Linked DNA regions of Homo sapiens: region 2 is linked to region 1. The links come from fine-mapping of genetic effects on gene expression. A gene starts in region 1. The other region holds a variant in brackets. All regions are shown on one strand. Distances are from middle to middle.

The links. PIP is the estimated chance that this variant, and not a neighbour inherited with it, causes the effect.
Region 2: its variant is fine-mapped to the expression of STBD1 in nasal epithelium (TOPMed, PIP above 0.99).

Annotation. Positions count from the first base shown.
Region 1 is chr4:76,303,937-76,309,323 of GRCh38, reverse strand. It overlaps STBD1 (starch binding domain 1), which reads right to left and starts at 2,591. Exons shown (of 2, transcript NM_003943.5): 1 at 2,335-2,591; 2 at 1-180. The coding sequence starts at 2,554. FAM47E-STBD1 (FAM47E-STBD1 readthrough) reads right to left here. Exons shown (of 7, transcript NM_001242939.2): 7 at 1-180. The coding sequence ends at 151.
Region 2 is chr4:76,281,348-76,286,734 of GRCh38, reverse strand. FAM47E (family with sequence similarity 47 member E) reads right to left here. Exons shown (of 8, transcript NM_001136570.3): 8 at 2,952-3,354. The coding sequence ends at 3,277. All of the region lies in intron 6 of FAM47E-STBD1 (FAM47E-STBD1 readthrough), which reads right to left. Among named protein-coding and RNA genes, the nearest start is that of STBD1, 23 kb to the left of the region's middle. The variant G/A (reference allele first, on the strand shown) is at 3,388.

The DNA.
Region 1 (5,387 bases):
AGTTACTGGTCTCAGAGGTAGCTGGAGCTTCTGTGTCTGGAAACTGTCCAGAAGGAACATGTTCTCTTGAATTGTCACAGACTTCCCTGGAAGGATTCTGCAATCTCCATGATGCTGCTTGCAGTTTACCAAGGTCTTTGGTCTTAGAAATCAAATGTCCATTGCTTTCTTGAAGATGCTCTAAGAAATCAAAGGAAAAATGTAATAGAGTCAGGTAGTTCATTTAAGAAAAAAGTCAGGCTGAGAAAATAGATTTAGTTACTGAAAGCTTTACTACTAATCAATCTGCAATTCACAAAGTCCCCCTCTATTAAAATCAAGTACTACTTAATTAACCAGTATGCTCCCAACACTGTGCTCTAAGAATACACATGTATATCTGACAACAAAAGGGACATCCAGGAGTATCAGTGTGCCAGCACAAGTGTAAATGAAGTGGTAAGCTGTAGAGGCAGACGTGTAACCCCCCCATGGTCCCCAGTCTCCACAGTCCAGGCCATACTGGCATGCAGCCAAGTTAAGTTGCTTGGCTCCTATCATCAAAGAATGTTGTCCAGGCTGTGGGGCAAAGGGCTGCGTGGCTACGTTACAAACCAGAAGAGTACACTTGTTCTCCCAGGGGAGGCATGCAGGGCAGGGATTGGCTCTCGCAGACCTGCGGGCAGATCAGCAGGAGCTGTCACCTTGGGGAGATACGGAGAACAGTAGTGCTTCCCTGGGCAGGAGTGGAGGGAGAACTGGGGGAAGGGGCTGGTTTCTCCTTGCCAATCCCATATGCGTTAGGAACCTCCCCAACAAAACGGTGTTTTGTATCCCCTTCCATTGTAAGCATTTTTTAAAAAACGTTCTTAAAAATACAAAATCCAAGTCCTCTAAAAATGCAGTTTCCTTCTTGGCCATGCCATTGGTAGTCCAAATAGCTCCCTACAAGATTGAAATCTCCAAATCATACATACAATCAGCACAGCTGTGGTTTTATGTGGTGTGGGGGTGGTGGTGGTATGGGGACAACAGTCTTGTTTCATTTTATCCCTTTTTTTTTTTTTTTTTTGAGATGGAGTCTCGCTCTGTCACCCAGGCTGGAGTGAGTGCAGTGGTACGATTTCGGTTCACTGCAACCTCTGTCTCCCGGGTTCAAGCGATTCTCCTGCTTTAGCCTCCCAAGTAGCTGGGACTACCGGCGCCTACTACCACGCCCAGCTAATTTTTGTACTTTTAGTAGAGACAGGGTTTCACCATATTGGCCAGGCTGGTCTCGAACTCCTGACCTTGTGATTTGCCCGCCTCGGTGATGGTGGGAGTTGGAAGTGAGAATGAACAAATATTATTCTGGATTCCCAACTTTTCAACCTAAAGCATGAGATTGGTCTTCAGAAAAAAGATAAGTGAACTGTCTAGGCATCCCAGACCAATCACAGTAAAGGCACACGGGCAGATTTTCATATGGCTGCACATGAACACCACTGGGCTAAAAATAAAGTTCACAGATGTCATTTTCACCATTAGGCTTCTGTCCAGGCATGGGCAGCTTGCCAAGGGAGGGCACTGGACGGTAAGCTTTTCTGCCAGTGTTCGCTCTCTGCTTAGCAAACGGTCCCTAAAATACAGAAATTTAAACCCAGATGTCAATTCTACTCATCAGGGTTGGGTCCCCTATTTAAGTAGTCCCTTCCTAGGGATGACTATCCGGCCCTATTCTGGGGCAGCGTGGAGGGGACTGCCGACAGTGCTGAAAGGGGTGACCAAGGCACATCCCCAGGGCCTCAGCCACAGCCTTCATGGCCAGAGTCCAACCTGAACTTTGCCTTCCTAAAGAAGCATCCAGATAGCAGGAGGCGCCCGCAGTTCGGGTGTTCCCAAACCCAGCTCTTCATGGGCTGTGCGATGGGAGGATGTCAGACTACCCGGATTGGGACTTAGAAAATGTCCCTGCTTGGGCAGAGATCGAAGAGGCTTGTAGGATCCCCTAAACCTAAGCCCCCCTTTCCAAAGGCCGGGAAGGGGCGCCGCCACTGCAGCCGCCCGCACTGCACCAAGCGCCGCCAAGTGGAGGAGCTCATCCCCGCCGGAGGGGCAGGACCAAGTCCTCAGGCGCGGGCGCTGAGGGACTCGGCAAGGGCGCGGCCCTTGGAGGACCAGACAAGAAACCTGCCTGCGCGTACCAACCAGCCTGGGAAACCGAGGGGCGTGGGGATGGCCCAGTCCCCTTAGGAGAGCCCGTCCGCAGGAATGGGCCCCTAGGAAAGCTCCAGGTGGGTTTGTCTCTTTGCTCCCTTCCTCGATGAACCTCAAAGCTCTGGCAGATGTGCCCTGGAGTCACGGGGGGAAGAATACCTGGTTTGGTGACCAGCTCCTGCCCGGAAGGTCCAGGGCTCAGTCCGCTGCTGCCACTCTGATGGCCTCCCGGAATCGCAGCTCCCCCAAGAGGGGCGTCTTTCTCCTGCTCCGCATCCCCGTCCTTCCCGGTGTCGCCAGGGCCGCCCCGCAGCAGCCAAACGAAAAGTGCTCCGGCCAGACCCCCTCCAACCAGCAGGGCGGACCAGACGGCGCCCATGGCTGAGAGGCCGCGGCCGCAGGAGACTACAGGGACTGGGACCGGGGCTCAGGTCACGCACACAGAGCCACACCTACCCCGCCCGCTCCAGCCTTTTACGGTTTCTGCGCCGGGCACTCCGGCGGAGCCCGGCCCTGAGCGACCAGTACTCAACTTTCCCAGCCCCGCCCCGCTCCCCGCCCCTGGGCTGCAGCCCCGGGCTCCCTCCCGGGGAAGACTCCAGCGCTCTTCTGTCCCTACACTTTCTGTTCCCGGCCTTGCCAGTTGCCAGCGGCCAGGGGCGCAGGGGTCGGCGTTCCACGTGTGTCCCGCGTGAAGAACCCAAGTGCGCACAACTGCCCCGCGCAGCCGGGACCTGCCCCACCGCCCTTCCTTCTTCCGCCTGCTGCCCGCGAGGCCCAGCCCTGCCTCGGCCCGCACCGGGCACCTCGGCGCCTTCTCCCCAGGGAAGCTCAGCAGCAACGCGGTCAGCTAGAGGCCGAGAGCTTCCTGGAACTTAGAGGTGGGAGAGGCCGCGGGCGTCGGTGACGCGCGGGCTGGAGCGCGGGCTAGAGCGGTGGCGCGTTCGGGTGGGATGGGTGGCCCGGAGGACGGCGGGCGCGGTGCGGGGAAACTGGGAGCCCTAGTGGAAGCTCCGCTCCGCCGCCAGCTCAGCGCGCTTAGCCTCCCCAAGCTTCCGCCTCCTCGCCTGTAAAATGGAAGGACTGGACTGAGGACCATCCATCTAAAGATGCCAGTCAGCTCAATCACATCCAGTCTCGTCCTCTTTGGGCGTGTATGGCTGCTGCGAAATGCGCACGCATCTGTATGAACTGGATGTTGTCCATGGACGAGCTCCTACAGATAAGTTTGTTAATAAAAACAGCAGCTCTTTATTAAGCACTGTCTGTATTCCGGATGTTTTAAGTGTGTATTTAATTTAATCCTCACAAGACAACAACCCTGTGCGGTGTTATATATATTTCTTTGTAAATCCTTTCCTCTGCTGATCTGATGACTTTGCACAACAGCTTCAAGCTGATGATCCCCACGTCTATGTCTGCAGCTCACACCTTTCCCTTGGACTCCGACATTCAACTGCTAAAGGCCACAGATACCAAACACCTGCCTTGGAGTAATTGCTATAATTGCTCTCTCTGGTAGGGCAAATTATCTAATGTGCCCCTTGCTCCGAATGGACAGTAGCCCTTAACGGGGTGCAAGGTTCTGCCAGTGGGGTTACTGGAAGGCTGATGCACGCCTTGATGCAGGCCACAACTTCTGTAATCATAAGAGAGGAGGTAGAGGAGAGGTGAGGGCGAAGACTGCCTACTGGGCATCTCCTCGTGGATGTCTAATAGACATCTCAAACCCAACTCATCCAGACCTGAACTCCCCACCTAACTCCCCAAACCTACTACTCTCCCCACCTTCCCCATCTCAGGAAGTGGCAACCACATCCTTCCCATTGCTGCAAAACAAAACACAGCAAGCTCCCACAGGCCACTTTCAAACCACCAGTCAGCGTGATCCTGTTAAAACACCCCAGTTCTCTGCTCAAGACCCTCCAGTTGCTCCAGATCACACGGAAGAACCTTTAAGACCCTACAGGATCTGTTCCCCATGACCACTGTGCACTCATCTCCATCTTGCCACCTTCAACCACACTGGCTTCCTTGCCTAGAGTCATCCTTCCTGCAGACATCCTCTCTCTCTCATCCCCTTTAGGTCTTGGCACAAGTGTCATCTGCATCCCCACTACCCCCTCCCCTGCCCAGCCCTTCCTTGACAATCCCAGTTTTAATTACAATCCTACTCCCTATATCCTTCCCCTGCTCCATTGTTCTCATTAGCACTTAGGGCGTCATTTCTAATACACTCTATAATCTGTGTGTCTGTGGTTTAATTTCTCTTTCCTCCCTTCAGAGTGTAAATGACAGCGGGGATGGTTGTCCTTTGTTCTCTGCTGAATTCTTAGCACCTGTAACCTCTCCGGAGTGAGCGCTTAGAAGTACAGGTTGAATGAATGAATTAAAAGCCCCAGGTAATTTCACCCTAGAGCATTATTGGCATTTTTCTTACGTAGATTCCATATGCATTTTTAGCCCATGTGGATATTACCGTTCCTTGAAATTCATTTTATGTATAATAAAAAGTAACCGTAAAGCTATATTTTTAAGAGAATGAATGTCACTGTATAAAATAAGATTCTTTCAGCCTGGGCAGCATAGCAAAACCCTGTCTCTATGGAAAAATACAAAAATGAGCTGGGCAAGGCAGTGGCGCCTATAGTCCCAGCTACTCAGGAGGCTGAGGATCACTTAAGCCTGGGAGGTGAAGGCTGCAGTGAGCCATGATCATGCCACTGCACTCCAGCCTGGGTGACAGAGGGAGACTGTCTCAAAAAATCTGATAAAAATATAAGATCCCTTGCATGTGCGGTTCACATAGGGTTTGTGCTCCTATGAGAGTCTAATGCCGCTACTGATCTGATAGGAGGTGCAGCTCAGGCTGTAATGTTCACTTGCCAACCACTCACCTCCTTACTGTGCAGCCTGCTTCCTAACAGGCCTCAGACCAAGGTCTGGGGACTCCTGTCTAAGGGATAAAAATCCCAGAGAATCTGTAAAATCCTTCAGATGTAAGCCCCACTATTCACTTATAATACCTAAAAGGCTCTTAATATTTATTGCTGTCATAAATGTCCATTCATTTATTTAAAATAATACCAAAAATTATTTTCTCAACCCATCAGAATTATTTTTACATTGTATCATATTGATCATGCAACATTTTTTTTAATTTACTTTTTTCTTTGGGAATCCCAAGAAGCTAATGCAACATTTTTAAAGAA
Region 2 (5,387 bases), 23 kb after region 1:
ATCTCCTTAAGCTGATAAGCAACTTCATCAAAGTCTCAGGATACAAAATCAATGTGCAAAAATCACAAGCATTCCTATACACAAATAATAGACAAGCAGAGAGCCAAATCATGAGTGAACTCCCATTCACAGTTGCTACAAAGAGAATAAAACACCTAGGAATACAGCTTACAAGGGACGTGAAGGACCTCTTCAAGGAGAACTACAAACCACTGCTCAAGGAAATAAGAGAGGACACAAACAAATGGAAAAACATTCCATGCTCATGGAGAGGAAGAATCAATATTGTGAAAATGGCCATAACTGTCCAAAGCAATTTATAGATTCAATGCTATTCCCATCAAGCTATCATTGACTTTCTTCATAGAACTAGAAAAAGCTACTTTAAATTTCATATGGAACCAAAAAAGAGCCCATATAGCCAAGATAATCTTAAGCAAAAAGAACAAAGCTGGAGGGATCATGCTACCTGACTTCAAACTATACTTCAAGGCTACAGTAAACAAAACAGCATGGTACTGGTACCAAAAAGACAGATAGACCAATGGAACAGGACAGAGGCCTCAGAAATAACATCACACATCTACAACCATCTGATCTTTGACAAACCTGACAGAAACAAGCAATGGGGAAAGGATTCCCTATTTAATAAACGGTGCTAGGAAAATGGGCTAGCCATATGCAGAAAACAGAAACTGGACCTCTTCTTTACACCTTATATAAAAATTAACTCACGATGGATTAAAGACTTAAACATAAAACCTAAAACCATAAAAACTCTAGAAGAAAACCTAGGCAATACCATTCAGGACATAGGCATGGACTAAGACTTCATGACTAAAACACCAAAAGCAATTGCAACAAAAGCCAAAATTGACAAATGTGATCTAATTAAACTAAAGAGCTTCTGCTCAGCAAAGGAAACTATCATCAGCATGAACAGGTAACCTACAGAATGGGAGAAAATTTTTGCAATCTATCCATCTGACAAAAGCCTAATATCCAGAATCTACAAGGAACTTAAACAAATTTACAAAATAAAACACAAACAACCCCATCAAAAAGTGGGTATAGGATATGATCAGACACTTCTCAAAAGAAAACATTTATGTGGCCAACAAACATATGAAAAAAAGCTCATCATCACTGGTCATTAGAGAAATGCAAATCAAAACCACAATGAGATACCATCTCATGCCAGTTAAAATGGCGATCATTAAAAAGTCTGGAAACAACAGATGCTGGAGAGGATGTGGAGAAATAGGAATGCTTTTACACTGTTGATGGGAGTGTAAATTAGTTCAACCATTGTGGAAGACAGTGTGGTGATTCCTCAAGGATCTAGAACCAGAAGTACCATTTGACCCAGCAATCCTATTACTGGGTATACACCCAAAGGATTATAAATCATTCTAGCACATGTATGTTTGTTGAAACACTATTTACAATAGCAAAGACTTGGAACCAACCCAAATGCCCATCAATGATAGACTGGATTAAAGAAAATGTGGCACATATACTATGCAGCATAAAAAAGAATGAGTTCACATCCTTTGCAGGGACATGGATGAAGCTGGAAACCATCGTCCTCAGCAAACTAACACAGGAACAGAAAACCAACCACCACATGTTCTCACTCATGAGTGGGAGTTGAATAATGAGAACACATGGACACAGGGAGGGGAACATCATACACAGGGGCCAGCCAGAGGGTGGAGGGCAAGGGGAGGGAGGGCATTAGGACAAATACCTAATGCATGCAGGGCTTAAAACCTAGATGACAGGTTGATAGGTGCAGCAAACCACCATGACACATGTATACCTAATGTAACAAACCTGAACATTCTGCACATGTATCCCGGAACTTAAAGTAAAAGTTAAAAAAAAAGATACTCTGTGGACAGAATATGTTTTTAATAAATAATTTCCTTTCAATAAATCCTTTTTTGATTAAATTATTCCCTATATGTTTCATAGAAAAAAATCTAGGATACATTCCAATGAGCAAAGAGCAGTTACTGCTAACTCTATAGGAAGAATTAGTATTTTCTATGTTCTTTTTGCTAGTCTATGTTTTCTGATTTTCCTAATATGAGCATTAACTTTTTTTTAGAGACAGGATCTCACTCTGTCACCTAGGCAAAAGGGCACTGGCATGATTATAGCTCACTGCAGCCTTGAACTACTGGATTCAAGCCATCCTCCTGACTTGACCTCCCAAAGCACTGGGATTATAGGAGTGAGTGGTCACACCCAGAGAGTATTAACATTTTAAAATAAAATATAATTTTTAAAAGGTAATTAAAATACATGTCATCTTGAGTTTCCATTAAACCTTCTGACCTATGACCTTATGTTATAGATACACATTTATTATCAACACTAACATGCCTGTCTTAGTCCATTTGTGTTGCTACAAAGGAATACCTGAGGCTGGGTAATTTTTAAGAAAAGAAATTTATTTGGCTCATAGCTCTACAGGGTGTACAAGAAGCATGGTGCCAGCATCTGCTTCTGGTGAGGGCTTCAGGATTCTTCCACTCGTGGCAAAAGGCAAAGGGGAGCTAGCATGTGCAGACATCACATGGTGAGAGAACAAGCAAGAGAGAGGAGGAGGAGCCAGGCTCTTTACAATAACCAGTTCTCACAGGAACTAAGAGTGAGAATTCACTCACTCCTGTGAGAATGGCACCAAGCCATTCACGAGGGATCCACCCCCATGACTCAAACATCTCAAACCAGCCCCCATGTCCAACACTGGGGATCAAGCTGCAACATAAGATTTAGCGGGGCCAAACAGACCATATCCACCCATGGCAATGCGGACAAAAGGAAAAAATATCTCAGTAAATTTAATTCAAAATGAAAGAAAATAATATTGTAAAGGAAGAGGAAAGGAGGTACTCATTCAATACCAGGGGAAAAACCTGGGAAAAAGGCAATAGAGTAAGTCTGTTTTTATTTATGCCTTTATTTATTTTTACCAATAGTTGATATACCTATATAATATTCACGTGCCACAAAAATATGAGAAGATTACATGTGAATATTGATCTCATGGGTGATAAAGTATACAAAATGTTGATTAACTGAAGCAGAAATCCATTGAGAAATGCTTATAACCATCAGGTATTACATTTACAGATGTTGCCAAGTCAAAGTTGAACATCCACAGTGGGACACTCATCATAAACTCTGTTTAATCTTTAAAAGGAGACAGAGAAATAGCCAAGTACGTAGTAATAAAATCTGCCTAATCATTCTCCTACGATTCTTCTATGCTTGAGTTCGTTTTATAGGAGTCTTATTACATGCACGTTTACATTCCTTCCCGATATACATATTCTCAAGGAACTAAAAAAAAATGAGAGAACCTTCATTAGATTG[G/A]CAAACAAAACTTGCACAGTACAGTCCTCCCCACAACCACTACCATATCTAACTCAAAATTTCACACTCTAATATATATCCTTACACTATGCAAAATCACATGTTAATAATCTGACCATGATAGATGTTGGTCTTTGGAAGGTAGTCACACAGTATCAGAAACACTCAGATGGAATTCACACTTGTTCTGTGCCCAAGTCTGGCCCAGCCCAGCTCAACATAGCCTTGTGCTGCCCATCCCTGCTACTAAGGCTTGGGATCCATCCGTGCAGCAGAGGGAATGAGGCTGTGGGTGATGCATCAAGTAGTTAATCCAGCAGCAGATACTGGAATGTGTAGGTAAGTGCATATGTTCACATAACATATGTGAATGTACACAGGAGGTTAAAAAAAAGAATGAATGTTCACATATAGATTTAAGTAAATAATAACTGTGTATACACACACACACATACACACACATATATTTATATACTGTGTGTGTGTATATGCATATATATCTTATTCCCTGTGATAGAGCCCCTTCTCTCCTTCAGTTGAAATCTTATTGATAAAATAAGAATATAGGATGTAAGAATAAAGGGACAAAATATTGTAGGGTTTTGAGTGACAGGTGTTCTCAGAGGACTCTGTTGTGACCAGGGGCATCATTTCTCTAGTCAATGTGACTGAAAAGAGGACAGCCAGATGTAGGGAGACCCCCTGAAACTATTGCTACGGAATAAAAGATGAAATGCTCCTGATTATTGTAAATACAAAATTGCATGCAGGATTGTGTAAAGACAATGCCAGGTTGGGCTGCCAGAACGAGCCAACAGCGCATGATGTGCTTCCCCCTGCAGACAGCCTATGAACGGACGTGCAGTCAGGGAGGTTGCACATCACCAACATTCCTATCCCAGAAAAGCAGATGTTCATAGCTCTGGGAATGGAATGCGACCCTTGTGGAAAGCCTATAAACGGACACATGGGGGGCGCCTGTCCATATGGATAAGATAGGGCTATAAATGCCCTCATCTTGCCACAGCTCTTCTAGGCCTCTTTAGGGTTAAGGCATACTCCCTTCTGAGAATTTCTGGTCTAACTGGTTGTCTAGCTTCACCTCCTGTTTCCATGGATTGTTTGTAACCAGCTTTTGTGGCAACTGTTACTGTTGATTAATATCTTGCTAATCATAGGTTATGGAAAGATTGTGTTTCTATTTTAAGATTCTGTTAGAAATTATTGACGCACACACTATATTGTAAATTCTTATCTCTGTACACTGTACTTCTACATACAAATGTACTGTACTTCTACATACAAATGTTATGTTAAAGAATTACTTCATCCCCATGTGACCATCTCATCTCACAATCAAATGACCCTAAATCTCTCACTAACCTACCCCCGCCCTCACTAAACTTAATAATAAATGCTGGTATATCCAGTGCATTGTTGGCACCGTGGGACCAGAAGGCGGTGACACCCCTGGACCCAGCTTTCACTATCTTGTGTGTGTCTATTATTTCTCAACCTGCCAATCCGCCTGGGAACAGAGAGCCCCGTTGCATTGCGGGCTGCTGGCCAGATCCTGCAATAGCCAGTGTGTCAGGCATGCTTCCTTTTGCCCAAAACTGAACTAAATGTTCATGAACAGTATGGATTAAATCAATAGGGAACACATCAAAATGAAAAAAAGAAGGGTGTTTTGCCACTAAAAATGTTAAGATACAAAAATGAGCCACAATAATATCAATGGCAAATAAGGATTTATATATACACACACATATACCACAGAAGTACATTTTTACATATCTAATATGGACTCGTAAACACATAATTATGTAATATTAAAGCTATAGATGCATATTTTATATTTTATATATTATATATAAATATAGTTATGCAAACCTTATATACAGATTAGGCAGTTATTTGTATATTAAATATATCTAGCAGACCTAGTATTGATGTTCAAAGCTAAAGGAGTTCCTCCAAACCAGTTCTATAATGGAGTT